Regions from separate parts of the Homo sapiens genome. Here all the other regions are linked to region 3. Evidence: fine-mapped expression QTL. A gene starts in region 3. Each other region holds a variant in brackets. All regions are shown on one strand. Distances are from middle to middle. Region 1 overlaps SYCP2L (synaptonemal complex protein 2 like). Region 2 overlaps SYCP2L (synaptonemal complex protein 2 like). Region 3 holds the start of SYCP2L (synaptonemal complex protein 2 like).

Region 1 (10,201 bases), 52 kb after region 3:
ACTACTCACCTCTGCCTTTGTAGCCAGAAAACAGCCAGAGACGGAATGGAAACACATGGGTATGCTGTGTTCTAATAAAACTTTGCTTTCAAGAACAGCAACAGATTAGTTTGCCAACCCCTGATACAGAGCAGTGGTTCTCAAACACTAGTGGCCATCACAATGACCAGGATGGCTTGCTGAAACATAGATTGCTGGGTCCTGTCCCTAGAGTTTTGAATTGAATAGATGGGACTTGAGAATTTGCATTTCCATCAAGTTCCCAGATACTGCTCATGTGCCAGTCTAGACCACACTTCGAGACCACACTTCGAGTTATCTACTGAAATATGACTTCACGTTCTTCCAATTCAGGGGTCTTACGATCTTAGTATTTATTTTTTTGTGGCTACGTTTATTAGATGTGTCTTTGAAAAATTAAAAAGAGAAGCTCAATAGCATTTATACCAAACTTTGAATGAAAGCACAAGGAGAAATTTCCTATTCAGTAAAAATGCAGTCAGAATTTTATTTACTGCAGTAAAATCTCAATTAACTCAATTAATCCTCAAGAAGGAAGGATTTAGTTAATGTAATTTTCCTGCCAATTAAAATTTAAATCTAGTATCCCCTTACACTAATTCTAATTGTTAGATATTTTATTTTCTTAGCTTAGTAAGCTGAGTAAAGGAAATATAATTGAATCATTGATCATTTAGGATTTTCACTAGGATCATTAGGCAGATCAGTTCTCATGCTGTAATAGAATAGAGGCAGGTAGAGCAGGAATGTTTAAATGAGTAGTCGCTTTGCTTTGACCCTAGGACTTTAGACAGGCACATTCCCTCTGTCTCTGTCTCGTGCACTCTGTCTCTCTCTTAACTAAATCTCTGAAATAAGCTTGCTTTATTCTCCCTCCCCTTTGGTTTTTATTAATGTATTTAATGAAAGTACTATTATTTGCAAATGTCTTTAAGGTAATTTTAAATTAATGAAAATAGTGATGTTGTAGTTCCTAAGGAAAACATTTCTGTCTCAATATATACTTTAAAAATAATTCAAAGAGTCAAGGTTTGAATCTATTGTCCATTTGAGGGGAGCAGTACTTGAATGCAGAGCCATTAGAAGACAACTGGAAATTGGCTGGGTGCGGTGGCACATGCCTGTAATCCCAGCGCTTTGGGAGGCCAAGGCGGGCAGATCACCTGAGGTCAGGAGTTTGAGGCCAGCCTGGCCAACATGGCGAAACCCCATCTCTAATAAAATACAAAAAAATTAGCTGGGTGTGGTGGCGCGTGCCTATGATTCCAGCTACTCATGAGGCTGAGGCACGAGAATTGCTTGAACTCAGTAGGTGGAGGTTGCAGTGAGTTGAGATCACACTACTGCACTCTAGCCTGGGTGACAGAGTGATTCCATCTTAAAAAAGATAACTGGAAATTGGAAATTCAAGAATCTGTAAGATTCTTTCCAACTGTGAAAACCAGAGTCTGGGATCAGGTGCCAGCCTTTCTCTTTTTACCTAACAGAATTTCTGATTTCCAAGGATTCATGAGATTTTCATTTCTGTATCTCGAGAAAGAGTAAATGACCTAATTCAGATTCAGTACCATGGCATTAAGCTAATATCCACCCCTCAACTAAAAACACACAGAAATTCTTAGTAGAATTAGCATTTATTTTCAAATGGAGTAAATCTAATACTTAAGCTTCTTAAAGTAATATTGAAAATGTCTTACAATATTTTGATAACTTGTTTTTAATTATGAATGTTAACACTTAAAAAAGATACTATATTTTAGGCTAAGCTTCTATCACCATCAGAGAAAGAAATACCCGAGCAAAATAACACCACATCTCCAAAGACTTCTGAACAAAAATTCCAAGATAGTTTTGCTTTTTTGACTGCTGAAGATTCTGCCCAGAAAACAGGTACATGATTTTCTGTTGACTTACATAGGAAAAAATTTGTATTTGGGAAAGGTAGTTTGAAGTAAACAAAACATTTTTATTTTAATATCTATTAAAGAAAATATGAAGATAACATTGTTCTTTACCTTAATGTCTCTTATTAGCAAATTAACAGAGGATATGATGTTTTAATTTTGCTGTGCCATTTGAGATCATCTTGTACCCAAGAATTGCTGGTCTCTTCTTTTTTTAAAGAAGCAAGACATCTCAAATGATGACCTGTAGCAGGGGTTGGTAAACATTTTTTGTAAGGTTCCAATAGTAAATATTTTTTGCTTTTTGATCCATATGGTTTCTTTTTCTTTTCTTTTTTTTTGACACGGAGTCTTGCTCTGTCACCCAGGCTGGAGTGCAATGGTGTGCTCCTGGCTCACTGCAACCTCCGCCTCCCAGGTTCAAGCGATTCTCCTGCCTCAGCCTCCCATGCCCGGCTAATTTTTGTATTTTTAGTTGAGACGGAGTTTCACCATGTTGGCCAGTCCAGTCTGGAACTCCTGACCTCAAGTGATCTGCCCACCTTGCCTTCCCAAAGTGCTGGGACTACAGGCGTGAGCCACCATGGCCAGACTTGATCCATATGGTTTCTGTTGTGACTATTCAACTCTGCAGTTGTTGCACAAAATTGGCCATGGATAAGATGTAAGCCAATGGGGTGGCTGTCTTTCCATAAAACTTTATTTATAAAATCAGGTAGCAGACTGGATCTGACTTGGGGGCCAGAGTTTGCCAACCCTTAACCTATAGGCTTTTTCTTAACCCTCACTGTATTTTATTTTGACTGTGTTTTTAAGTTTGTTAATAATATGATTTTATTATTATTAATAACAATATTAATATTGTTCATTATTCTGCAGTTCACATTGCCAGGCATACAATGATATTTAGTAAGTACTTCAATAACAATCTGTTAGTGTAGCTGCCACTGGAAGAAAATAAGTAGGGAAAATCAAAAAGTAGAGAGGAAAATGTAACATTAAAGAATAAAAGGGGTCAGGCGCAGTGGCTCCCTCCTGTAATCCCAGCACTTTGGGAGGCTGAGGCGGGCAGATCACCTGAGGTCAGGAGTTCGAGACCAGCCTGACCAATATAGTGAAACCTCGTCTCTACTAAAAATACAAAAACTAGCCAGGCATGGTGGCAGGCACCTGTAGTCCCAGCTACTCGGGAGGCTGAGACAGGAGAATTGCTTGAACCGGGAGGCAGAGGTTGCAGTGAGCCACTGCACTCCAGCCTGGGCGACAGAGTGAGACTCTATCTCACAAAGAAAAAAAAATAGATTAAAAGGAAGGAAGAGAGCAAGATAGGGAAGAAAGGAACAAAGTTACTACAAAAGAGTAACAATCAACAAAATGGCAATACTAAGTTTTTACCTATCAATAATTACTTTAAATGGATTAAATTCTCCAATCAAAAGACACAGAGTGGTTGAATGGATAGAAAAAAGTGAGATTCAGCAATCTGCTGCTTACAGGGGACTCACTGTACCTTAAGGACAGATATAAACTGAAAGTGAAGGGTCGGAAAAAGATATTCCATGCAAATGGCAATCAAAAGAGAGCAGGGATGTGGTTATACCTACATCAGGCAAAATAGACTTTCTGTCAAAATTTGTCACAAGAGACAAAGACTAGATGATGATAAAAGGGTTAATTCATCAACAGGAAATAGCAATTGTAAATATATATATGCACCCAACATTACAGCACCTAAATGTATAAAGCAAATATTAATAGACCTGAAGAGAGAAATAGCAATACAATAAAAGAGTTCTTTAATTACCCCACCTTCAATAGTCGATAGATTATCCAGATAGAAAATCAATAAGGAAACAGTGGCTTGAATAATACTGTAGACCAGATGAATCTAACTAACATATACAGAACATTCCATCTAACAGCAGTGGAACACTTATTCTTCTCCAGTGTACAGTGCGCATGGGACATTCTCCAGAATTGATCATATGTTGGGCTACAAAATACATCTTAACAAATTTGAAAAGATTGAGATAATCTCAGATGTCTTTTCTGATCACAGCAGTATGAAACTAGAAATAATAGCAGGAGGAAGATTGGAAAATTCACAAATACATGGAAATTAAACAACACACTCCCGAATAACCAATGGATCAAATAAATTAAAAGGGAAATTAAAAAATCTTGAGATAAATGAAAATGGAAACATACCAAAATTTACAGGATGCAGCAAGAGCAGTGTTAAAAGGGGAGTTTATTAGCAATAAATACCTACCTTAAGAAAAAAGGAAAATCCCAAGTAACTTCACCCCTCAAGAAACTGAAAAAAGAAGAAACTAAACCCAAAGTCAGCTTAACGAAGAAAATAACAAATATTAAGGCATAAATAAATGAAGTAGGCACTAGAAAGACAATAGAAATGTTCAATGAAACTAAGAGTTTGTGTTTGGAAAGAATGAAATTGACAGACCTTTAGCTAGACTAACCAAGAGAAAGAGAGGACTCAAAAAAAACTGTTAATGAAAAAGGAGACACTACAACTGATACCACAGAACTACAAAGGATCATAAGCCATTACAACAAACAAATTATACACCAACAAATTGGATAACCTAGAAGAAATGGGTGAGTTTCTAGAAACATGCGACCTACCAAGACTGAATATAAAGAAATAGAAAAGCTGAACAGACCCATAATGAGTAAGGAGATCAAATCAGTAATCAAACCTCCCAACGGAGAGTAGCCCAGGGCCAGACGGTTTCACTGGTGAACTCTACCAAGTATTTAAAGAAAAATTAATGCCAATCCTTTTCAAACTCTTCCAAAAAACTGAGGTGGACAGAACACTTCCAAACCCATTTTATGAGGCCAGCATTACCCTCTTGTCAAAGCCAGATAAGAATGCTACAAGAAAAGAAAATTACAGGCCAATGTCTCTGATGAACGTATATGTAAAAACCCTCAAAAATACTAGCAAAACTTACTAAATAGCACATTAAAAGGACTATACACCATGTTAAAGTAGGATTTATCCCTGAGATTCAAGGAAGTTTCCATATATGCAAATCAATAAATGTGATAAACCACATTAAGAGAATGAAGGTTAAATTCATAGAATCATTTCAATAGATGCAAAAAAAGCATTTGACAAAATTTAACATCCTTTCATAATGACTTTCAACAAATTAAGTACATATAGAATGCACCTCAATATTAAAAAGGCCATATATGACAAGCCCAGAGCTAGCATTCCACTCAATGGTGAAAAGCTGAAAGCTTTTCCTCTAAGATCAGGAATACGACAAAGGTGTCTACTCTTGCCACTTCTGTTTAACATAGTACTGGAAGTCCTACCCAGTTCTATCCAGGCAAGAAAAAGAAATAAAAGACATCCAAATAGGAAGATGTTAAATTGTTTTTGTTTAAAGATGACATGATTTTACATATATCAAACTGTAAAGGCTTCACCAAAAAACTGTTAGAACTAATAAATGAATTCAGTAAAGTTGCAGGATACAAAATCAACATACAAAAATCAGTTGTGGGGTTTGCTTCTGGGTTTCAACAAAACAAAACAAAAATCAGTTGCATTTCTAGACACTAACAGTAAACTGTCTAAGAAAGAAATCAAGAAAATCTCAGCCAAGCATGGTGGCTCATGCCTGTAATCCCAGCACTTTGGGACGCCAAGGCCGGAGGATTACGAGGTCAGGAGATCGAGACCATCCCAGCTAACACAGTGAAACCCCATCTCTACTAAAAATACAACATATTAGCTAGGCATGGTGGCACACTCCTGTAGTCCCAGCTACTCAGGAGGCTGACGCGGGAGAATTGCTTGAATCCAGGAGGTGCAGGTTGCAGTGAGCTGAGATCACGCCACTGCATTTCAGCCTGGGTGACACAACGAGACTCCATCTCAAAAAAAAAAAGAAAATTTCATTGATAATAGCTTAC[A/G]AAAAACACATAAAAATAACCAAGGAGGTGAAAGGTCATAATCTGAAAACTATAAGACATTGATGAAATTAATTGAAGACACAAATAAATGGAAGAATATCCTATGTACATGGATTGGAAGAATTGTTAAAATGTCCTTATTATCCAAAGCAATATACAGATTCAATTCAACTGCTATCAAATTTCTACTGGCATTTTTCACAGAAATAGAAAAAACTATCCTAAAATTTATATGGAACCACAAAAGATCCTAAATAGCCAAAGCAATCTTGAGAAAGAGGAATAAAGCTGGAGGCATCACACTTTCTGATTTCAAAGTGTATTCAAAAACTATAGTAATCAAAACAGTATAGTACTGCCATAGAGACAGGCACATAGGCCAAGATAACATTATGGGCCCAGACATAAACCTACACATATATATGGCCACTTAATCTTTGAAAAGGGCACCAAGAATACACAATGAGGAAAGGAAAGCGTCTTCAATAAATGTTTTGGGAAAACTGGTTATCCACATACTAAACAATGAAATTGGGCCTTTGTTTTATACCATATACAAAAATCAACTCAAAATAGGTTAAGACTTTAAGATCTAAAACTGTACAAGACAAAAATAGGGAAACAGCTCTTTGACATTGGTCTTAGCAATGATTTCTTGCATACAACCCTAATAGCACAATAAACTTTTGGGACTATGTCATACTAAAAATCTTGTGCACAGCAAAGAAAGCAATCAATCAAATGGAAAGACAACCTAAAGAATGGGAGAAAATATTGCAAATCATATATCTGATAATAGGTTAGGGGTTAATATTCAAAATAACTTCCACAACTCAAAAGCAAGACAACACATAACCTAATTAAAAATGGGTAAAGAAGCTGAATAGACATTTTTCCAAAAAAGAAGCACAAATGGCTAATGGGTATATGTACTCAACATCACTGATCATTAGAGAAATGCAAATCAAAACCATAATGTGATATCTCACACCTGTCCAGATAGCTATTATCGAAAAGACAGGAGATAACAAGTGTTGGCAAGGGTATGGAGAGAAGGGAACAATTGTACGCTGTTGGTGAGAATGTAAACTGATGCAACTATTGTGGAAAACAGTATGGTGTTTTCTCAAAAAAATTAGAATTGTATAGAATCCATCAATCCCACTTCCATGTATATATCCAAAGCAGATAAAATCAGCATCTTGAAGAGAGATCTGCACTCCCATGTTTATTGCAGCATTATTCACAATAGCCAGGATATGGAATCAGCCTAAGCACTGGTCAGTGGATGAATGAATATAGAAAATGTGGTATATATTAATAATGGAATACTATTCAGCCTCAAAAAAGAAGGAAATCAGGCCATATGCAACAACATGGATAAACCTGGAGGACATTATAGTAAGTGAAATAAGCTAGTCACTAAAGGACAAATACTATATAATCTCACATATATACGGAATGTAAAAAAGTCAAACTCATAGAAACAGAGAATGGAACAGTGGTTGCCAGGTGCTAGGAGGTGGGGGGAAAGAGGAGATGGTCCTCGAAGGATATAAACTTTCAGGCATAACATGAACAAGTTCTGGGGATGTAATATACAGCACAGGTAGTGATGGATGTGTTCATCGATTTGAAAGTGATAATCATTACACCGTATATATGTATATCAAATCATCAAAAAAGAGTAAGAGGCAATAAGGGAGGGGTTTCTAAGGGAGAGAAGAATCACAAGATTGAGGTGGAAGAATCCCTGCCCGTGTTATTTGAGGCCAGATGGGCAGCTCCTTAAGGTGCCGATCTAGTTGAAGTAACTGGCTGTTAATCTTAACTACAGATGTACAAACCTAATAAGAATTCATCTTTGACAAACCTGACAAAAACAAGAAATGGGGAAAGGATTCCCTATTTAATAAGTGGTGCTGGGAAAATCGTCTAGCCGTATGTAGAAAGCTGAAACTGGATCCCTTCCTTACACCTTAAACAAACATTAATTCAAGATGGATTAAAGACTTAAATGTTAGACTTAAAACCATAAAAACCCTAGAAGAAAACCTCAGCAATACCATTCAGGACACAGGCATGGGCAAGGACTTCGTGTCTAAAACACCAAAAGCAATGGCAACAAAAGCCAAAATTGACAAATGGGATCTAATTAAACTAAAGAGCTTCTGCACAGCAAAAGAAACCACCATCAGAGTGAACAGGCAACCTACAGAATGGGAGAAAATTTTTGCCATCTACTCATCTGACAAAGGGCTAATATCCAGAATCTACAAAGAACTCAAACAAATTTACAAGAAAAAAACAACCCCATCCAAAAGTGGGCAAAGGATATGAACAGACACTTCTCAAAAGAAGACATTTATGCAGCCAACAGACACATGAAAAAATGCTCACCATCACTGGCCATCAGAGAAATGCAAATCAAAACCGCAATGAGATACCATCTCACACCAGTTAGAATGGCGATCATTAAAAAGTCAGGAAACAACAGATGCTGGAGAGGATGTGGAGAAATAGGCACACTTTTCTTTTACACTGTTGGTGGGAGTGTAAACTAGTTCAACCATTGTGGAAGTCAGTGTGGTGATTCCTCAGGGATCTAGAACTAGAAATACCATTTGACCCAGCCATCCCATTACTGGGTATATACCCAAAGGATTATAAAACATGCTGCTATAAAGACACATGCACAGGTATATTTATTGTGGCACTATTCACAATAGCAAAGACTTGGAACCAACCCAAATGTCCAACAACGATAGACTGGATTAAGAAAATGTGGCACATATACACCATGGAATACTATGCAGCCATAAAAAATGATGATTTCATGTCCTTTGTAGGGACATGGATGAAGCTGGAAACCATCATTCTCAGCAAACTCGCAAGGATGAAAAACACCACATGTTCTCACTCATAGGTGGGAATTGAACAATGAGAACACATGGACACAGGAAAGGGAACATCACACACTGGGGCCTGTTGTGGGGTGGGGGGAGGGGGGAGGGATAGCATTAAGAGATATATCTAATGTTAAATGACGAGTTAATGGGTGCAGCACACCAACATGGCACATGTATACATACGTAACCTGCACGTTGTGCACATGTACCCTAAAACTTAAAAGTATAATAAAAAAGAATTCGTGTCCCGAAAGACACAGTCAGTAGATTTTTGTTTCACTTAGAACTGTGTTCCTTTTTTTTGATGATGAGATTTAATATCTAGAATGATAGTGAATTCTTATTGCTTTGTTACTTGGCGTGTATTCACTTGAAACTTCTCTCTAATGCTCAGAGCTTCAAGATCCTCACTCACTGAGTGAGCTCTCTTCCTTGAAGCACTCAGAAGATGAAGAAAAACCTAAGGTACTATTTAATTGTTGGTTATTCATCTGATTTTCCAGAATTAATATCATATTTGCATAACACATTGGCTATTCCTTCTGACGAGTACACCACTTGTTTCTTGCTTTGCCATAAAGGACGTAATTTGTGGTCTGTTTTGTTTTTAAGATTGTGAACCAAGAATCACTAACAGAAAGTACTAGCTTGAAACATAAGCTGAGAAACTTGGAAGACAAAGGTAAGAGAATAGTACTTTTTTTTTTTTTTTTGCAGAATAAAATGAAATTAATCTGATTTTGGCAGACTGGGCTGTTACTCAGATTGCAGATCAAGTCACTTTGCACAGTGACTATTGCCAGGCCGTGGAGGGAGCAGTGTGAGCTGCTTACTAGTTCTAAATGTTCATGAAGGTTAGGAGGAAAAATGGGGGGCTCCATTCAGGAACCAGGACCTCTTGTGCCAAGGAAGGTATAGCCTGGGACCTGAATCCCACCAGCCAGTCACACCTTCTCTCCAGCCTCAGAGGAGGGCACAGTGGCGGTACTTTGCTAAGGGTCTCATCCAGAGCTGATTTCATTCTCAAGCATGTAGGTCACTTGTGGTTTATAAGAAATGTTCTAAAACATTGTGTGGTCAAATTATTAAAACTTCTGAGTTCATTTACTCATGTTAACAGTGGTATGAAGATTTCCAGTCTGGTTCACAATGTTGTATCTAATATAATGTAATGAGTTAATATAATACTTTTCTACTGTTTATGATGTTTCTTGACTGCATTTTTTTCTCTACTTTTAAAATTACGTATCGAAAGGATTCAACTAGTTATAAATATGTGTAGGATATTTAGAATATTAATGCAACAAATATCTGCAAACCACCATCCTGTTTTAGGAATATAACATTACTATTGCTTTCAAAATCCTGGTATGCTTTACCTGAAACCCATCCCACCCCCTCCCCTTAATTTTA
Region 2 (10,201 bases), 37 kb after region 3:
TGCCTCGCCAATGATCTTTTTGTGATGAATTTCCCGAGTGTTCTTTGTGCTTCTTGTATTTGGATGTCTTGGTCTCTAGCAAAGCTGGGGAAGTTTTCCTTGATTATTCCCCCAAATATATTTTCCAAACTTTCGTATTTCTCTTCTTTCTCGGGAGTGCCAATTATTCTCACATTTGGTCGTTTAACATCATCCCAGACTTCTTGGAGACTTTGTTCGTATTTTCTTATTCTTTTTTCTTTGTCTTTGTTGTATTGGGTGAATTCGAAGACCTTGTCTTCGGGCTCTGACTTTTTTTTTCTTTTCTTTTTTTGAGACAGAGTCTCGCTCTGTTGCCAGGCTGGAGTGCAATGGTGTGATCTCAGCTCACTGCAACCTCCGCCTCCTGGGTTCAAGTGATTCTCATGCCTCAGCCTCCCGAGTAGCTGGGATTACAGGCACGTGCCACCATACCCAGCTAATTTTTGTATTTTTAGTAGAGACGGGTTTCACCATGTTGGCCAGGATGGTCTCAATCTCCTGACCTCGTGATCCGCCCACCTTGGCCTCCCAAAGTGCTGGGATTACAGGCGTGAGCTACCATGCCCGGCTGACTTTCTTTCTTCCACTTGTTCGATTCTATTGCTGAGACTTTCCAGAGCATTTTGCATTTCTGTAAGTTGTCCATTGTTTCCTGAAATTTTGATTGTTTTTTATTTATGCCATCTATTTCATTGAATAGTTCTCCTTTCACTTCTTGTATGATTTTTTTATTTCCTTACATTGGGCTTCACCTTTCTCTGGTGCCTCCCTGATTAGCTTAATAACTAACCTCCTGAATTCTTTTTCAGGTACATCAGGGATTTCTTCTTGGTTTGGATCCATTGCTGGTGAGCTAGTATGATTTTTGGAGGGTGTTAAAGAACCTTATTTTGTCATAGTACTAGAGTTGGTTTTCTGGTTCTTTCTCATTTGGGTAGGCTCTGTCAGAGGGAAGGTCTGGGGCTGAAGGCTGTTGTTCAGATTCTTTTGTCCCATGGGGTGTGCCCTTGATGTAGTACTCTCCCTCTTTTCCTATGGTTGTGGCTTCCTGAGAGCCGAGCCGTAGGGACTATTATCTCTCTTCAGGATCTAGCCACCCAGCAAGTCTACTAGGCTCCGGGCTGGTACTGGGGGTTGTCTGTACAGAGTCCTGTGATGTGAACTGTCTATGGGTCTCTCAGCCATGGATACCAGCACCTGTTCTGATGGAGGTGGCAGTGGGGTGAAATGGACTCTGTGATGGTTCTTAACTTTGGTAGTTTAATGCTCTGTTTTTGTGCTGGTTGGCCTTCTGCCGGTAGGTGGTGATTTCCAGAGAGCATCAGCTATGGTAGTGTAGGGAGGAACAGGCGGTGGGTGGGGCCCTAGAACTCCCAAGAGTATATTCCCTTAGTCTTCAGTTACCAGGATAGGTAGGGAAGGATCATTGGGTGGGGGCAGGATTAGGAGTGTCTGAACTCAGACTCTCCTTGGGTGGGTCTTGCTGTGGCTGCTGTGGGGATATGGGTGAGGTTCCCAGGTCAATGGAGTTATGTTCCTAGGAGGATTATGGCTGTCTCTGCTGAGTCATGCAGGTTGTCAGGGAAATGGGGAAAAGTCAGCAGTCACAGGCCTCACCCAGCTCCCATGCAATCCAAAGGGCCGGTCTCACTCCCACGGTACCCCCCACCCTCAAAACCACCAAGTCTGTTTGCAGGCAATGGGTGAGCAAGAAAGCAGGGGATTTTAAAGGGGACTTGGCATGAATGGCATGTAAGGGAGAGAGTGAGGAAGTGTGGGGTCTTCATGACTTGCTTTGATGTCTTATCCATCAGGTGGTCTGGCTGGTGCCATCGTGGGCAGAACTAGGTTGTACATTGACTGTTGTCTCAAGGCAATCTCCTGGTGGGGAGAATCTCAGGGGGTGCCTGGTTTGGTTCAACGTTTGTTCCTTAGAATTTCTTTTTGTTTTGTTTGGTTTGGTTTGGTTTGGTTTTGAGACTCTCACTGTGTCACCCAGGCTGGAGTGCAGTGGCGTGATCTTGGCTCACTGCAACCTCTGCCTCCTGTGTTCAAACGATTCTCCTGCCTCAGCCTCCTGAGTAGCTGGGATTACAGGCCTATACCACCATACCCAGCTAATTTTTGTATTTTAGTAGAGATGGGGTTTTGCCATGTTGGCCAGGCTGGTCTCGAACTCCTGACCTCAAGTGATCCAACAGCCTCGCCCTCCCAAAGTGCTGAGATTACAGGCGTGAGACACCGTGCCTGGCCTCCTTAGAATTTCTAAGCAAACATATAGTTAGATGAGCTTGCAGCACAGAGAGTGCCTCATGGGAAGAAGGTAAATGTTATAATTGCGTTCCTTTTTTTATTTTCTTCAACTTTTATTTTAAGTTCATGGGTACATGTGCAGGATGTACAGGTTTGTTACATAGGTAAACCTACACAGGTTTGTTACAGGTTTGTTACATAGGTAACTTTTAAGTTAATGGGTACATGTGCGGGATGTACAGGTTTGTTACATACTCTCTGCAGGACAGAGAGTGCCTCATGGAAAGAAGGTAAATGTTATAATTGCGTTCCTTTTTTTTTTTCTTCAACTTTTAAGTTCATGGGTACATGTGCAGGATGTACAGGTTTGTTACATAGGTGCAGGATGTACAGGTTTGTTACATAGGTACATGTGCAGGATGTACAGGTTTGTTACATGTGCCATAGTGGTTTGCTGCACAGATCATCCCATCACCTAAGTGTTAAGCCCAGCATCCATTAGTTGTTCTTCCTGATGTTCTCCCCCAACATACCCAGGCCCCAGTATGTGTTCCCCGCAATGTGTCCATGTGTTCTCATCATTCAGCTCCCACTTATAAGTGAGAACATGCGGTGTTTGGTTTTCTGTTCCTGTGTTAGTTTGCTGTGGATGATGGCTTCAAGCTCCATCCATGTCCCTGCAAAGGACATGATCTCATTTTTTTTATGGCTGCATAGTATTCCAAGGTGTGTATGTACCACATTTTCTTTATCCAGTCTATCATTGATGGGAATTTAGATTGATTCCATGTCTTTGCTATTGTGAATAGTGCTGCAATGAACATAGGTGTGCATGTATTTTTATAATAGAATGATTTATATTCCTTTAGGCATATACCCAGTAATGGGATTGCTGGGTCAAATGGTATTTCTTTCTCTAGGTCTTTGAGGAATCACCACACTGCCTTCCACAATGGTTGAACTAATTTACGCTCCCACCAACAGTGTAAAGTCTTCCTTTTTCTCCGCAACCTTGCCAGCATCTGTTGTTTGACTTTTTAATAATAGCCATTCTGACTGGCATGAGATGGTATCTCATTGTGGTTTTGATTTGCATTTCTCTGATGATCAGTGATGTTGAGGTTTTTTTCATACGTTTGTTGGCTGCATGAATATCTTCTTTTGAGAAGTGTCTGTTTATGTCCTTTGACCACCTTTTTTTTTTTTTGAGATGGAGTCTCGCTCTGTCGCCCAGGCTGAAGTGCAGTGGCGCGATCTTGGCTCACTGCAAGCTCCGCCTCCTGGGTTCATGCCATTCTTCTGCCTCAGCCTCCCGAGTAGCTGGGACTACAGGCGCCCGCCACCACACCTGGCTAATTTTTTGTATTTTTTAGTAAAGACGGGGTTTCACCGTGTTAGCCAGGATGGTCTCGGTCTCCTGACCTCGTGATCTGCCCGCCTCGGCCTCCCAAAGTGCTGGATTACAGGCGTGAGCCAACATGCCTGGCCGACCACTTTTTAATGTTTTTTGTTTGTTTGTTTGTTTGTTTTTCATAATTGCATTCCTAAAGAGCTAAGTAAGAGGTGGGGGAAAAGGAAAAAGGTAAAAATAATTCATTATTTTCTTTAAGAATGTGGGTGCTCAGTTAACAGCTTTCAGGAGTCAACTTGCCAAAGTTAATATTTTGTAACTTCATGAATAGATCACGTTTCTGTGGTTCATGGTTTTTAATTTACAAAGTGCCTCACAATTTCTACAGGAAGTAGGTATTACTCTTTCCATTCTTATAGCCAAAGAAACTGATGATTGTCTAGTAAATTCCGTAAGTAAGACTTTTGTTCTGTATCATAGCCCTTCTGGTTATGGAGTTGGCAGTGTAGTATGTTGGAAGCTTGATGTAGCCCTCATGGTATTTCTTCTGACCCTTGTATATGTTTGCATTGATCCCACGGCCCAGTTAGCTAGTTACTTTTTTTTTTTTTTTTTTGAGACGAAGTCTCACTCTGTCGTCCAGGCTGGAGTGCAGTGGTGCGATCTCAGCTCACTGCAAGCTCCTCCTCCCGGGTTCACGCCATTCTTCTGCCTCAACATCCCGAGTAGCTGGGACTACAGGCGCCCGCCACCATGCCGGGCTAACAATTAGCTAGTTACTTTTTAAGATATTTAAGATTACTTTTGTTGCATGGTTTTATAGACTTTCCCTGGAGTGATGAGTAAAATGTCCGGCAAGATTAGTATTTTGGGGAGATCATGGAGGCTTACTCTAGACCAGCACTGTCCTATAGAAATATGAGGTGAGCCAGATACTTAATTTAAAATTTTCTAGTAGTCACATTAAAGAAAAAAGTAGATTAATTTGAGTAGATTAAAAAAGTAGATTAAGTAGATTAATTTTATTAATATATTTTGTTTAACCCAGAATATTATATCCTGGAATAATAATATCCAGAATATTATTTTAACATGTAATCAATATTTTAAAATTATTAATGATACATTTTACATTCTTCTTTTGTGTACTGAGTCTTCATAATCCGATGCGTATTTTGTGCTTACAGAGCATCTCGGTTAGTACTAGGCATGCTTTCAGTACTCTGATGAGTTGGACCTCACAGATTTAGACTCATGTATGTTTCCCTCTTTTTTCCCCTTGTTTCCCGTCTCATTAATTTGTGGCCATTAGCTTTGCCTGTTCTTTCCTGGACTTTGCTGCCTTTTCTATTCTCCTTCTTCCGACTTACCTTGTACTTAATGTGGTGTATTCTTGGCCTCTTTGTGAATTTGGTCTAAGCCATTT[T/C]CTCTTGTAAGCCCGATTACAATTTGTCAGGAAAGGGCTGGTGACCTGGGAGGAGGCTGCAAGGAGGCTATTGTCTGAAACACACACTTTTTTTTTTTTTTTTTTTTTTTGAGATGGAGGCTTGCTCTGTCACCCAGGCTGGAGTGCAGTGGCATGATCTCGGCTCATTGCAACCTCCGCTTAGCGGGTTCAAGCAATTCTCCTGCCTCAGCCTCCTGAGTAGCTGGGATTACAGGGGTGCACCACCACGCCCAGCTAATTTTTGTATTTTCAGTAGAGATAGGGTTTCAGTGTGTTGGTCAGGCTGGTTTCAAACTCCTGACTTCGTGATGCACCCGCCTCGGCCTCCCAAAGTGCTGGGAGACGCAGACTTCTTTCTTTTTCTTTTTCTTTTTTTTTTTTTTTCTTGAGACGGAGTCTAGCTCTCTCCTCCAGGCTGGAGTGCAGTGGCACGATCTCGGCTCACTGCAAGCTCCGCCTCCTGGGTTCACGCCATTCTCCCGCCTCAGCCTCCCGAATAGCTGGGACTAGAAGCACCCACCACCACGCCCGGCTAATTTTTTTGTATTTTTAGCAGAGACAGGGTTTCACCGTGTTAGCCAGGATGGTCTCCATCTCCTGACCTCGTGATCCACCCGCCTCGGCCTCCCAAAGTGCTGGGATTACAGGCGTGAGCCACCACGCCTGGCCTACAGAATTTTTTCTAAGGTGTTTCCGTCTCTTCTTCAAGTGGAGTCCATTGAAATGGTGGTAGATTATTCCATTTTGCACATTGGGGACAGTGAGTTTTATTTTCAATTTTAGAAATAAGTAGAATTTCAGAGAGAGAGAGAGTGAATATTGTGCATAGTATATTTGGGAATAAAATACCTGTTGCAGATGATAGCCTTGTATAAACAAAATGCTCTTAAAAAAACTGAATTGCAGAAGACAAAACTATCTTCATTTCTTTGCTGCTAAGGTAAGTTACTTCCAATGTTTGCAAGATCAACCACTTAATTGTGTTGTATGTGTATATGTGTAAATACATGTGCATCTAAAGGACAATTTCAAAGTAATGTTATTTAATATGATTTCTTTTCAACTTCTTAACACAGAAAAATCTGGACAAATACCCTAGCGTAGTTATTTAAAATGATAAAATTTTAAAATAAAACATTGAAGTATGTTGCTATGCATTGATATTCCATATTTTCTCTTAGAAACGGAGAAGATAAAGATATTTATCATTTACCTGAAGAAGCCCATGATTATCAGCTACAAAGAAGTCATGAAAATAGAAATCCATTTTGATTTGCAGTTCAACATATCACAAGTTTCCATTCAAGCTTTAGGAGAAGACAAACAGGTGGCAGGTTTCATTCTTTTGGATTATTTAAAAATGTTTTAGTATGTTTCATGTCTATTAAATGTCCTTGTTGGGTTTTGATGTGAATATTTGATAAAGCAGAAAACCTGGTCTTTCAAATGCCATGTAAAAAAGAGTTGAGAGTTCTGGATTTAAATCCCAGTTTTCCCTTTTGATGGGTCATTGTCTTGAGGTAGGATAGAAAGCCTCTTTGTTCCTTGAAATGCTTTACTCTACTAACTGTGAACAGCTGAAAGGTTTTCTAGGATAATATCACCCTGTTACCACCTTCTTCCTGGAGTCCTGAGGACACTGGCATTTCTGTCTCTCTCAGCTCCCCCTGGACCTAGGGGGAGTGTATTAGTCTGTTCTCACGCTGCTAATAAAGACATACCAGAGACTGGGTAATTTATAAAGGAAAGAGGTTTAATGGACTCACAGTTCAACATGGCTGGGGAGGCTTCACAATCATGGTAGAAGGCAAAGGAGGAGCAAAGTCACATCTTACATGGCGGCAGGCAAGAGAGTAGGGGAACTCCCCTTTATAAAACCATCAGATCTTGTGAGACTTACTGTCAGAACAGCATGGGAAAGACCCATCCCCATGTTTCAGTTACCTCCCATGGGGTCTCTCCCATGACATGTGGGAATTACGGGAGCTACAATTCAAGATGAGATTTGGGTGGGGACACAGCCAGACTGTATCAGGGAGTCATTAGGAATAAAGTTTCTGAGGGACTTTTTCCACAGTTGTACCTGTTGGTCTTATCTTGTGGAAATGGTCTGTACTTCTCTAGATTGCTGTGGTCTCCAACTCTCTCTGTTTCCTACTTATTGACAGAAACAGGAAACCTTTCTGTATCACAGATGGTAGACAGGGCAAAGAAATTTGTGACAAAAGGCAAAAAATACTGTGGTAATGGCCCATAGAAAGTTGAATTAAGAGCTCAGAGACCAGATAAGGAAGTCTTGGGCTGGTTTCCTTTTGGTTTGAGTTGTATATGAAGGTGTTTATATGTAGCAAAGTGCTCTGAAAATAGTTTCTAAAAACTCACCTTATTTTAATGACATGGTCTTTTTACAAAAAGGCCATTTCATGGATGAGGATGAGAAATAAAGGGGAAATCAGTCACTTGGTTAAAAAACACCTCCTCCATCAAATTACATATGTTCTGAAGACAAGTTTGCCTTAACTCACAAAAACATCGAAATCATATGTCTTTCCAGTTTCACAAAATGAATAATAACGTTTTGAGGGGAGAATGAGGATTTTCCTGTGATAAAGCTGTAGTTCCTAGAATAGGAGGCCCCTATTCTAGGGAAAGGGGTTGGACTGAGGACCCTATAGTTGGGAACTCACTACAGACTCATCCTGAAAGAGACTCAGTGCCTGAGAGAAGCAGCGGTTAGACGTTACCCAATGGGGTAAGACCTGGGCCAGAGACAGGAGAGGCTGGGAAGATACCAGGAAAGAGTGCTTGGAGCAGGGGAATGGCTAGCCCGAGCTGGTCCTGTAGGGAGGTGGGGCCTGGAGAAGCCAGAAACAGTGGAATGATCCTTCAGGAGAGGACAAACTGGTAAACTTGACTAACTTCTGATTTATCAGTGTGTTTTGTTCTAAGCTTTACGTTTTCCTTAAATTTTTTTTTTTTTAAAGATGACTACATTTCAAAGTTGACCTTTGTCTTGCATTTCAGATGTTGCCTGACCAGACGAAAATCTCCTCAGAACTTTTTAGTAAGTCTGATAAAGAAGACAGGGAGAGTCCCAGTGGCCTTGAAAGAGAAACAGGTATATTGGGAAATAACAAAATTCTGACCCTGAGTTTTCTGTAAAAGCGATGAAACCTTAGTTGGAAGAGGTCACTGGAAACCTGTGGTCATATGAGTGATGCGTGTCTGATGGCACTTCTGGAGGAAGAAGAGTTGCTGATAGCCTTGAATTGTTTTCTACACCTGTTAAGGTCTCTCTTGTGGGTCAACTGGAAATGACAAAGAAGAAATGATGGGGTTTGGGGGAGGCAGGACATGGGGGTAAGGAAGGTCTTGTCTACCCACAAAGTCGGCCCTGCACTAGACCGTGTTTCTCTTTTGAGTTATGCCCCAAGGCTGTTTTCCCAAGTGCCCATAGATTTCTTTTCTTTTTTTTTTTTTTTTGAGATGGAGTCTTGCTCTGTTGCCCAGGCTGGAGTGCAGTGGCACGATCTCGGCTCACTGCAACCTCTGCCTCCTAGGTTTAAGCAACTCTTCTGCCTCAGCCTCCCAAGTAGCTGGTACTACAGGTGTGTGCCACCATGCCCAGCTAATTTTTTGTATTTTCAGCAGAGACGGGATTTTGCCATGTTGGCCAGGCTGGTCTCAAACTCCTGGCCTCAAGTGATCTGCCCATTTTGGCCTCCCAAAGTCCTGGGATTACAGACGTGAGCCAACATGCCAGCCTGTACCCATAGCTTTCTGATTGGAGGTTTGAGGCAGGACCTAATTACCAGGTCTTACCAAAGGATGGAGAGGTACCAGAGGGGACATCCCATGAAGACCACTGGTGAGTATGTCAGCGTGTGCACGGTTATTATATTAGTCTTTTTCTTAATTTGTATAGAGCAGGCAGAAGAATCCACTAACATGGTGGAGTTTATGAGTGCTGAAGATGACCGCTGCCTAATAACTCTCCACTTAAATGACCAATCTGAGCCACCTGTTATTGGGGAACCTGCCTCTGATAGTCACGTAGGTTCTTTTCTATTTTCCCTAAGCATCGGCCAGGTTGAGAAATAAAGGGACGGACTACAAAAGAGAGAAATTTTAAAGTTGGGCATCCAGGGGAGACATCACATGTCGGTAGGTTCCGTGATGCCCCCTGAGCTGTAAAACCAGCAAGTTTTTATTAGGGATTTTCAAAAGGGGAGGGAGTGTACGAATAGGGTGTGGGTCACAGAGATCACGTACTTCACAAGGTAATAGAATATCACAAGGCAAATGGAGGCAGGGCGAGATCACAGGACCACAGGACCGGGGCGAAATTAAAATTGCTAATGAAGTTTCGGGCACCATTGTCATCAATAACATCGTATCAGGAGACAGGGTTTGAGAGCAACCGGTCTGACCAAAATTTATTAGGCGAGAATTTCCTCGCCCTAATAAGCCTGGGAGCGCTATGGGAGACTGGGGCTTATTTTATCCCTACAGTCTCGACCATAGAAGATGGTCACACCCAAGGGGGCCATTTTAGAGGCCCACCCTCAGGGGCGCATTCTCTTTCTCAGGTATGTTCCTTGCTGAGAAAAAGAATTCAGCGATATTTCTCCCATTTGCTTTTGAAGGAAGAGAAATATGGCTCTGTTCCACCCGGCTCACCGGCGGTCAGAGTTTAAGGTTATCTCTCTTATTCCCTGAACATTGCTGTTATCCTGTTCTTTTTTCAAGGTGCCCAGATTTCATATTGTTCAAACACACATGCTCTACAATTTGTGCAGTTAACGCAATCATCACAGGGTCCTGAGGTGACATACATCCTCCTCAGCTGACAGGATTAAGAGATTAAAGACAGGCATAGGAAATCACAAGGGTATTGTGATACCCTTGTGATACAAGGGTATCACAAGGCATAGGAAATCACAAGGGGAAGTGATAAGTGTCCATGAAATCTTCACAATTTATGTTCAGAGATTGAGTAAAGACAGGCATAAGAAATTATAAAAGTATTAATTTGGGGAACTAATAAATGTCTATGAAATCTTCACAATCCACGTTCTTCTGCCATAGCTTCAGCCGGTCCCTCCGTTCGGGGTCCCTGACTTCCCGCA
Region 3 (10,201 bases):
GGGTATGTGTGTGTGTGTGTGTGTGTGTGTGTGTGTGTGTGTGTGTGTGTGTGTGTGTATGGTCCGTCCGCAGACTCTTCAAGAACTCGAATGCCATTCTCCCTCCTTCGGATGGACAGCGCCCCGCGTGCCCGCACACACCCGGTTCACTTACCTGAGGCATCTGCGGATCGTTGATGTCCCAGCTGAGCTGCATCCCGTAGGAGCACACGCCGACCGCTTCCTGCACCGCGGCCGCCGGCATCTGCCCAACTCGCTCGCGCTTTCCGCCCAGGGTTCTGAAAAATAGAAGAAAAAAGGACAGGTGCGCCAGGTGGGTTTTTTTTCTTCTCTTTAAAGAAGAAAGTGGGGTGTGTGAAGGGGAGGTGCAGAGAGAGAGAAAGAGAGAGAGGCTGTTTAGATATCTGGAAGCTGGGGACAATGGTTATGGACCCGGGCGGGGCCTTGTCCTTGGCCGCGGTGCTGAACGTTCTCCACCCGAACGGCAGCATCGACCTCTGGCAGCTGCCCCCTCCTTTATAAAGATATACCTCCGGGGGGCTCCGCCCTGTCTCGCCTACCTCGCTAGCGCCCACGCTCCAGGGGCCGGTCGCCCCCTCCACCACAGTCCCAGGAACGGAGGTGGAGGTTAAACTCAGCCCTGGAAGCAAATGGAAACTGCAGCCAGAGGGTGGGGGTGGAGAGGGTAAGTAGGAATGTATCCTTTAAGTTTAAAACCTTATTATTTTCTTCTTTTCTTTTCTTCTTTTTTGTCTCACTCTGTTGCCCAGGCTAGAGTGCAGTGGCGCCATCTCAGCTAACTGCAACCTCTGCCTCCCAGGTTCAAGCGATTCTCCTGCCTCAACCTCCCGAGTAGCTGGGAATACAGGTCCGTGCCACCACCCTGGCTAATTTTTGTATTTTTAGTAGAGACAGGTTTTAGCCATGCGAAACCCTGACCAAGCTGGTCTTGAACTCCTGACGATCTGCCCGCCTGGGCCTCCCAAAGTGCTGGGATTACAGGCGTGAGCAACCGCGACCGGCCTATTTTTTTTCTTTTTTCTAAACGCGTCCAGCTTCCCTGATTTCGGAAAGGGGCTTAGATGGAGGCTTTCCAGCAAAGTCCCCTGAGAGCCAACACTCAATTCCAGGAGAGCATGGGAACCGTGCGTGGGCCCCTCTGCCGTCCGCGTGCGCCCTAGCCTGAATAACCGCGCCCACGCCTCCTAGTTAGGGGTCAGCCCATTTTGGGCCTCCACTGCCGGCTCTTCCCCTAACTATTGTGAGTGTCTCGCAGTCTTGGCTCTGCTGTTTGGGACGTGCCAGGGTGCGCCAAGCCTCCGCGTATGCTCGCGAGCCCAGGCGCCTTCACGCTCCCGGGGACTTCGGAGGGACCTGGCCCTGCAGGAACGGAGTCCTACAAAGTGAACCTGGAGGAGGTGGGGGGCGGAAATGAGCCCGGGGTAGGTGGGAGCCTGGGGTAGGTGGGAGCCTGGGGAAGGAGGGAAAGGGGAGAGGGGAAAAGTCCCAAAGAACTCGCTTTCTCCACTGCTTTGGCTCCCTCTGGGTCTCAGCTTCCTTATCTGTTTATCTGTTAAATAAGAGGTTGTGGTTCGGCGAGCTCTCAGTTGCCACCCACCCGAACACAAATCTTTTTTTTTTTTTTTTTTTTTGAGACGGAGTCTCACTCTGTCTTCCCGGCTGGAGTGCAGTGGCGCAATCTCGGCTCACTGCAACCTCCGCCTCCCAGGTTCAAACGATTCTCCTGCCTCAGCCTCCCGAGTAGCTGGAACTACAGGCGCGCCATCGCGACCAGCTAATTTTGTATTGTTAGTAGAGACAGGGTTTTACCAAGTTGGCCAGGATGGTCTCGATTTTTTGACTTCGTGATCCTCCTGTCTCGGCCTCTCAAAGTGCTGGGATTAAAGGCGTGAGCCACCGCGCCCGGCCCACAACTCTTAAAAAAAAACTTCACTGATATAGTCTTGGAAATATCACGACGAAATTGAATTTACTCCATTACAGTCTTGGGAGGCTTTGGAGGACTAGAGAATCGCGGTGGTGCGGAGGTGCGCAGGACAATGTGGGTTCTCCGGGGCTGGGACGAAACCTTCATCATCTGAGCAGCCGACTCGCCCAGGGCTACTCCGGCACATGGAGACCCTCAGTATATATATATATAAAAAAAACAAAAAACAAAAAACAAACAAAACAAAACAAAACCGATTGAAGTGACTAAAGTCACTCTTTGACTACCCCAAGGCCGGATTCTTGGCGGCCAGGGGAAAGGGCTTCTGGAATTTATTGCCCGCGTCCTTGTTTTGCAGCTGCACGCTTCCATTCCCAGCCCCAGCCAGAGAAGAGGAGCCAACTCCTCACGGCAGATCCCTTGATAGAGGAGGATGAACCGAATCCATGACCCTCCAGACCCGGGAAGCGACGCACCCTAGGCCTTGGCACCGCAAAGCCCGTGCTGAGCGCACGGACGGGTGCTGCCCGGGACTCGGCCAGGAGGGCGCCCATGCCAACGCCTCTTGCAGGATTAGTGCCTTCGGTTGGCAAAAGGCGGATAAAGGAAGAGCGAAACCACATCAGGAAGCTAAGGGTGGTCCACGCTCCCTGTCCTTTTACTTCCCGCGCCAAAGGCACAGTGAGGCTTGCTTAGAAAAGTCCATCCCGCGATTGGGCGCAGTGGCTCATGCCTGTAATCCCAGCACTTTGGGAGGCCGAGACGGGAGGATCGCTTGAGCCCAGGAGTGCAAGACCAGACTGGGCAACATGGCGAAACCCTGTCTCTTCGAAAAAAAAAAAAAAAAAAAAAGCCGGGCATGGTGGCGTGTGCCTGTAGTCCCAGCTACTTGGGAGGCTGAGGCGGGAGGATCGCTTGAATCCAGGAGGCAGTGGTTGCAGTAACCTGAGATAGCGCCGAGCCTGGGCGACAGAACGAGACCCTGTCTCAAAAAAAAAAAAAAAAAAAAGGAAGGAAAGAAAGACAGAAAGAAAGAGAGAGAGAGAGAGGAAGGAAGCAAGGAAGGAGAAAGAAAAGAAAAAGAAAAAAAAAAGAAAAGGAAAGAAGAAAGAAAAAGTATCCCAGTCGGTCAGAGAAGCCTGCCAGTGGCAGCGGACCAGCGAACTCTGTTGGGAAGAAAGGCCAACTTCGAGCAGTTCCTCGCGATTTTTTCCTCCTTTATCTTCTAGCTGGGGTCCTCCTCCCAGTCAAAGCCGAAGGGTCCTAGCAGAAGAAAGTGATTTGTTCATTCCCAGCCTCCTTTCTCCCGAAGTTCTCCCCTCCTAAAAGGTCCTGTCAGTCAAGGTTTCTGATTAAAATCACTCTCAAATGGTCGCCACTGAGGTCTAGCTGGGAACGAAGAGATCTGTCTACTCTTCACCCACGAGTTTCATTCACAGATTTTTCATCTTATTAACTGTCTGCCAAAGGTCCCCGAAACTCCTGTTGATTCAGTTGCTTTTCGTGTTGTTTTGTCTTCCAAAATTGAATGAAAATTTATTGATTATCCATTTTAATTATAGTATTTCATTAAATGTTGTAGTCTAAGATAACTTATCCTTTCAAATGTTCTAAAAATAACTTTAAAATGGTGATTTAAAGTTACCTCTGAAAATGCATAGAAATTAATTTTTGGTCTTATTGCAGTGCTAGAATAGTTCTTGTCTCTGTGCTTTTGGAATGTTCCTAGAGAGACCTGACCCGTCAAAAACATAAATAAATAAAACTTTTTTATGTAAAAGGCAAATCAATTAATTTCTAAAGGGATTCTGGTATCCAAAGAAATGTCATAGAGCCTCTACTATATTTAGTTTGAGAAGAATTAGAGTATGCATTTCAAGTTGCCATAAATTATATTAAGACAAAACATGTTAGTAAAAGAAGCTAATCAAAGTAAAAAAAAAACCAGATAAAAGGTATTTTGCCTATTCTGTTATTTTTAATTTCTCTTAAAGATTTGAATGCATTGCACCATAGACTTTGGAAGGACATGTTTTCCCCCAAAGCCTGAAAATAATAGATGATTAAGTTTTCTATCTAATATTATGAAAACTCTAATTTTTAAATATTCTCTTAAAATTCATTTAAACTGTAGTATTTTGTTTATTGCTTCTTATTATTCATTGTTTCTTTCTTGCCCTGGTATTATATTTGTATTGACTCACAATAGCTTATACTCACAGCTGTTCCTGTCTTGATTACTAGTTTAATATTACAAAAGTCCATTCATTGAAAAGGAAAAAAACTTGCGTTTGAATTTCCTTGGTTTAGATTAAAATAGGTAAATTAATGTAAGAATGTTTACATTATACTTTCCAGGAAATTGATATGACAGGCTTTGACATAAACATTGTTTTGAACGGACTAGAAATGTGTGCAAGTCCTGGGCTAACAGGGGTTCTGGTTTTGTTATGTTTTGCTTTGGTGTAGACAAATATCTTCCGTACATATTATGACTTGAAATACTCACAGGTCTAGTTATAATACAAGTTGATTTTTACACAAAGGATGTTTGGATTGGAGGGGTCTTTTTTTTGTTTTTTGTGGAAAACTCTAGTCCAATTTAATTTTGCCACCGTGTTCACACAACTGGCCACCTATCCGAATCAGCCTAGCCATTGGTACGCATACTTGTCAGGTTAAAGGAAATAGGCAAACAAAGAAACAAAAAAACAAAAACAAAAACAAAACTATTTGCTTTGATTAAAAAAAAAAATTCCCCTTCCTCCCCACCACGGTACTTAAAAAACAACCACCAAACACACTTTGTGTGTGTGTGAAATCAGGAATGTATTAATAATATCGGGTACAAGTCTGGTTACCATAGGAAAGGGTTCGGCTTCTGTCTGCACACATCAATGGACCAAAAACTGCTCCTCTGGCTGTTTTTTTTTTGAGACGGAGTCTCACTCTGTCCCCCAGGCTGGAGTGCAGTGGCGAGATCTCCGCTCACTGCAACCTCCGCCTCCCGGGTTCAAGTGATTCTCCTGCCTCAGCCTCCCCAACAGCTAGGATTACAGGCACGTGCACCGCGCCCGGCTAATTTTTTGTATTTTTAGTAGAGACAAGGTTTCACCATGTTGACCAGACTGGTCTTGAACTCCTGACCTCAAGTGATCCACCAGCCTCGGCCACCCAAAGTGCTGGGATTACAGGCGTGAGCCACCGCGCCTGGCCGCCCCTCTGGCTTTTTAAGGCGGGGCAAAAACTTGGAACAGCTACCACAAAGCGAACGCCTATCTGTTTGGAATTTCGCAAATAAGGAACGTTTAAATGACGTAGTTCACATCCTTTGAGTGCTGGCTTTCTCTTAAAGGGTGAGTGCGTGCGCCCAGGTGGTTTGGCCTGTGTGCGCTAGTTACTTGCACGCGCTTCTTGAGTCTCAAAACACAGAGCTCTAGTAAACTTCAGGGGGCGGATTCGTCAATTACAGTTGCGGAAGAAGACTCGACTCGAAGAGCGGTCCGCCACCAGGGCTCTTTCGGCAGCGCCCCCAGCGGGCGGGGCTCTTGGGCGGGGAAGCAGGAGAGGGCCGACCGAGCGCAACAAAGCTGAGCGGCGCGTCGCTTCAGGAACGAAGAAGCCTCGTTATGCAAGCGGTGAGTGACCCCCGAAGGGCCCGGACCTTCTGTCCACAGTGCTAGGGCGCGCGAGGGCGCGGGGTCCCTGGGGCTCAGGTTCTGCCGCCTTGAGGTGTTCGCTCAGAGACCGGGTGCTGGGCATAGTCCCCCGCCACCTCCTTGGGTTTGCTCGGAGTGTATTGGCAGCCTGCGGGGAGACCAGGCAGAATAGAAACCTCGGATCCCTAGCTAAATAGCGCTCAGGGAAAGGGGAACCGGAGAATTCGTGTTCGGAAAGCAATGAGATAGTTCTTTTCTAGTTGCTTTGCGTATTTTCCTAGCCGGTTTTCCAGCCCTCTTTCCACCTTGCTGCGTAGAAAGTGCAGAAGTGTTAAGCAACCCCAAGTGCTGGGACTTCATTTAACCGAACGACAAAGGACAGCCCCTAAGATAAAGCTACAATTATTACTTATCAATAAATAATAAAAAAAAACACATGAAGTTTGAGCCCACCCAGGGACGCCAAAAACAACAAACAAAAACCACCTGGGGCGTGTTTCTAACATTCTTCTGCCTGGGTTCCTGGTGGTAGAAATTCTGATGTAATTGGTCTACGGTGGGCCGGTAGTTTGTTAGTTTGTTAGTGAGGACGCCAGGTGATTCTGATAGCCAGGGGTAACTGCTTGCCTAGATCCAGGAACTCACTCTTGTTCTCCATAAAATCCATCTGTCATCTGGCGCCATCTTCCCAGCCATGGGGAAACAGATTTGGGACAGAAACCTTTCTAACATCAAGCTACGCTTAAATTCAGAGCACTTAAGCATAACCTCCTCACCCTCTCCATCCCTGTTACATTGAAAGCTGCCATTCACTGAGCCATTTTTATGTGCCCAGGCACTATGCTAAGAACATTACAGACATTCTGTCAGTCAGTCCTCACTCCAATCCTTCCATATAGGTGTTACCATCTTTTTTTTTTTTTTTTTTTTTTTTTTTTTTTTTTTTTTTTTTTTTTTTGAGACGGAGTCTCATTCTGTCGCCCAGGCTGGAGTGCAGTGGCGTGATCTTGGCTCACTGCAACCTCTGCCTCCCGGGTTCAAGCGATTCTCCTACCTCAGCCTCCCGAGTAGCTGAGACTACAGGCGCGCGCCACCACGCCAGGGTAATTTTTGTATTTCTAGTAGAGACGGGGTTTCACCATGTTGGCCAGGATGGTCTCTGTCTCTTGACCTCATGATCTGCCCGCTTCGGCCTCCCAAAGTGCTGGGATTACAGGCGTGAGCCACAGCGCCCGGCTATCATCATGTTTTTTAAATGAGGAGACTGAATCTCAGAGAATCTAACGATCTTTTCTGCCTAAACCATCCCACTTTCTGATTTTCCTGTCAGGTTCCTACCCACAAAAGCTGCCACATGATCTTCACAGAAGGGGGATACCTTTCTGTGTACTAGAGTGGCTCCAGAAATTCCAGAAACAGGAAGCATTTCTTTGGAATTTGCAAAGTACTGACCACCAAGGCCAGAGAAGGTTGAAAGGAGGTAGAAATAAAAATAAGCAGAGCATCTCTGCATACGAATTGAACTGAAGGAGAGATAGGGCCGTGTCTATAGAGAAAAGAGGTAAAGAAGCTTAACATAAAGGCTCCCGGGAATATTTTCTTTGGGATGGGAAGTATTTCCCACTAATTCAGAATTTGTTGACAAAACTTAGAAATTATAGATACGTAGCATAGTGTTTATTTGATGTCAGTTTATGCTATGAATTAACACCCTTTTTTTTTTGATACGGAGTCTCACTCTGTCACCCAGGCTGGAGCGCAGTGGCTGGATCTCGGCTCACTGCAACCTCCACCTCCTGGGTTCGAGTGATTCTCCTTCCTCAGCCTCACGAGTAGCTGGGTCTACAGTCACGTGCCACTGCGCCCAGCTAATTTTTGTATTTTTTAGTAGAGACGGGTTTCACCATATTGGACAGGCTGGTCTCGAACTCCTGACCTCATGATATGCCCGCCTTGGCCTCCCAAAGTGCTGGGATTACAGGCGTGAGCCACTGCGCCTGGCCTAACACCCAATTTTAATTGTAGCTTTAGCTGTTCCTCCTATCTCACTTTTGCCTCTACTCAATTATCCACTAACACAATGGTTCTTTTTCTTTGCCTTTATCATTTATTTTTAATTGACACATATATTAATTGACACATAGTAATTGCACATGTTAATTGGGTGTAGTGTGATATTTCCATATGTGTATACAGTGTGTAATGATCAAATCAGGGTAATTATGCATATCCATCACCTCAAATATTTATTTCTTTGTGTTGGGAATGTTCAAAATCTACTCGTATAGCTATTTGAAAATATACAATAAGTTGTACATTATAGTCACCTTGCAGTACTATCTTACTCTAGAACTTACTCCTTCCAGCTAGCTGTAATTTTGTGTTCATTAACTAACCTCTGCCTATCTCACTTCCTCTTTTCTAGTGACCACTATTCTCTCTACTTCTATGAGATCAGCCTTTTTTTTTTTTTTTTTTTTTGAGATGGAGTTTCACTCTTGCTTCCCCAGCTGGAGTGCAATAGTGCAACCTTAGCTCATTGCAACCTCCGCGTCCCGGGTTCAAGCGATTCTCTTGCTTCAGCCTCCCCCGTAGCTGGGATTACAGGCATGCGCCACCCTGCCCGGATAATTTTCTATTTTTAGTAGAGACAGGGTTTTGTCATGTTGGCCAGGCTGGTCTCCAACTCCTGACCTCAGGTGATCCACCCACCTCGGCCACCCAAAGTGCTGGGATTACAGGCATGAGCCACCGCACCCGGCCGAGATCAGCTTTTTTAGCCTCTACATGTGATCAAGAACATGCAGTGTGTCTGTCTGTGCCCCGCTTATTTCATTTAGCATAATGTCCTTCAGGCTCATGCATGTTACCATGAATGACAGGATTTTGTTCTTTTTTCTGGCTGAAAAGTATTCCACTGTGTGAATATACCACATTTTCTTTATCCATTCATCCACTGATGGACACTTAAGTTGATTCCATATCTTGGCTATTATGAATAGCGCTGCAGTAAACATGGGAGTGCAGATATGCCTTTGACATACTGATTTCTTTTCTTTTGGATATATCTCCAGGAGTGGAATTGCTGGATTTATGATAGTTTTTTGAGGAACCTCCATACTGTTTTCCATATTGTCTATACTAATTTACATTCCTACCAACAGTGTACAAGAGTTCCTCTTTTTCCATATCCTTGCCAGCATTTGTTGTTTTTTGTCTTGATAATGGCCATTCTAACTGGGGTAAGATAATATCTCATTTTGGTTTTGATTTGCATTTTCCAATGATTAGTGATGTTGAGTATTTTTTCATATACCTGTTGGTCATTTGTATGTCTTCTTTGGAGAGATGTCTATTTAGCTTATTTACCCATTTTTAATTGGATTGGTTATTTTGCTGTTGAGGTGTTTGAGTTCCCTGTATATTCTAGATATTAATGGCTTGTTGGATGCATAGTTTGCAAATATATTCTCCCATTCTGCTGGTTGTCTCTTCACTCTATTATTTCCCTTTCTGTAAGAAGCTTTTTGGTCTGTATAATTTCATTTGTCTATTTTTGCTTTCATTGCCTGTGATTTTGAGGTTTTCTCCATAAAATCTTTGCCCAGACCAATGTCCTAAAGTGTTTCCCCTATATTTTATTCTAGTAGTTTGGGATCTTAAGTGTAAGCTTTTAGTTTATTTTGAGTTGATTTTTGTATATGGTGAGACATGGGATCTGGTTTCATTCTTCCACATATAAATATCCAGTTTTCCCAGCACCAGTTATTGAAGAGACTGTCTTTTCCCCATGAATGTTCTTGACACCTTTGTCAAAAATCAGTTGGCTATAAAAAAGTAGATTTATTTTGGGTTTATCTATTCTGTTCCATTGGTCTACATATGTGTCTGTTTTTATGCCAGTACCATGCTGTTTTGTTCCTATAACTTTGTAGTATATTTTGAAGTCAGGTACTATGATGCCTTAAAGACACTTTTATTTAACTTTATTTTACAAGCTCTCATTCTGAAAATGGTTTATTAGTTCAAAGCCTTTTTACTTCTACTTTATAATCATCATTATAGAGTTTGTTTATTTTGTGTGATTATTTATTCAAATGATGTTTGCTTTGCTTCTTCTGATAGTTTGTACTGTATTTGTCTTAGACCATGCTAAAGAAGGTTGGATAAAGTTTTTCTCTTTTTTCTAAGTACTATTTTACTTAGACCTATAATATGAGCAAACAAAAATTTCTGTTCAGGAAAACAATACAAACCTTTAATTTTTTTTTTTTTTTTTTTTGCTTTGTGTTTAAAACTTGAAATGCATTTCTTTGAAATAAAAATTGTTTAAAAACATGTTTTTATTCCACACAGAAAAACAAAGATGCTTTGCAGCCTATTAAGGAAGACAGGACTGGGAAGGCCCAGGATGATGCTTTCTGGGTAAAGATCAAGTTTCTTTTATAATCTCTCTCTGTGTGTGTGTGTGTGTGTGTGTGTGTGTGTGTGTGTGTGTGTGTGTGTGTATGTGTATATGAGTGTATGTATTCTTTCTAGTTCTGTGTTCCCTGGGTCATTAGCAAACTTGTTCCTCCAGTTGCTCAAATCAGAA

Evidence for each region. PIP is the estimated chance that this variant, and not a neighbour inherited with it, causes the effect.
Region 1: its variant is the best candidate, but not a certain one, in a credible set for the expression of SYCP2L in esophagus muscle (GTEx, PIP 0.87).
Region 2: its variant is the best candidate, but not a certain one, in a credible set for the expression of SYCP2L in left ventricle (GTEx, PIP 0.83).

What each region holds. Positions count from the first base shown.
Region 1 is chr6:10,933,277-10,943,477 of GRCh38, forward strand. It overlaps SYCP2L (synaptonemal complex protein 2 like), which reads left to right. Exons shown (of 30, transcript NM_001040274.3): 21 at 1,782-1,911; 22 at 9,183-9,253; 23 at 9,401-9,470. All of the region lies in intron 2 of LOC101928191 (a long non-coding RNA gene), which reads right to left. Among named protein-coding and RNA genes, the nearest start is that of SYCP2L, 51 kb to the left of the region's middle. The variant A/G (reference allele first, on the strand shown) is at 5,880.
Region 2 is chr6:10,918,243-10,928,443 of GRCh38, forward strand. SYCP2L (synaptonemal complex protein 2 like) reads left to right here. Exons shown (of 30, transcript NM_001040274.3): 15 at 6,254-6,399; 16 at 8,097-8,190; 17 at 8,998-9,125; 18 at 10,161-10,201. Among named protein-coding and RNA genes, the nearest start is that of SYCP2L, 36 kb to the left of the region's middle. The variant T/C (reference allele first, on the strand shown) is at 5,052.
Region 3 is chr6:10,881,550-10,891,750 of GRCh38, forward strand. It overlaps SYCP2L (synaptonemal complex protein 2 like), which reads left to right and starts at 5,503. Exons shown (of 30, transcript NM_001040274.3): 1 at 5,503-5,586; 2 at 9,964-10,032. The coding sequence starts at 5,578. GCM2 (glial cells missing transcription factor 2) reads right to left here and starts at 492. Exons shown (of 5, transcript NM_004752.4): 1 at 155-492. The coding sequence starts at 244. RefSeq lists a silencer at 387-681 and an enhancer at 4,670-5,438.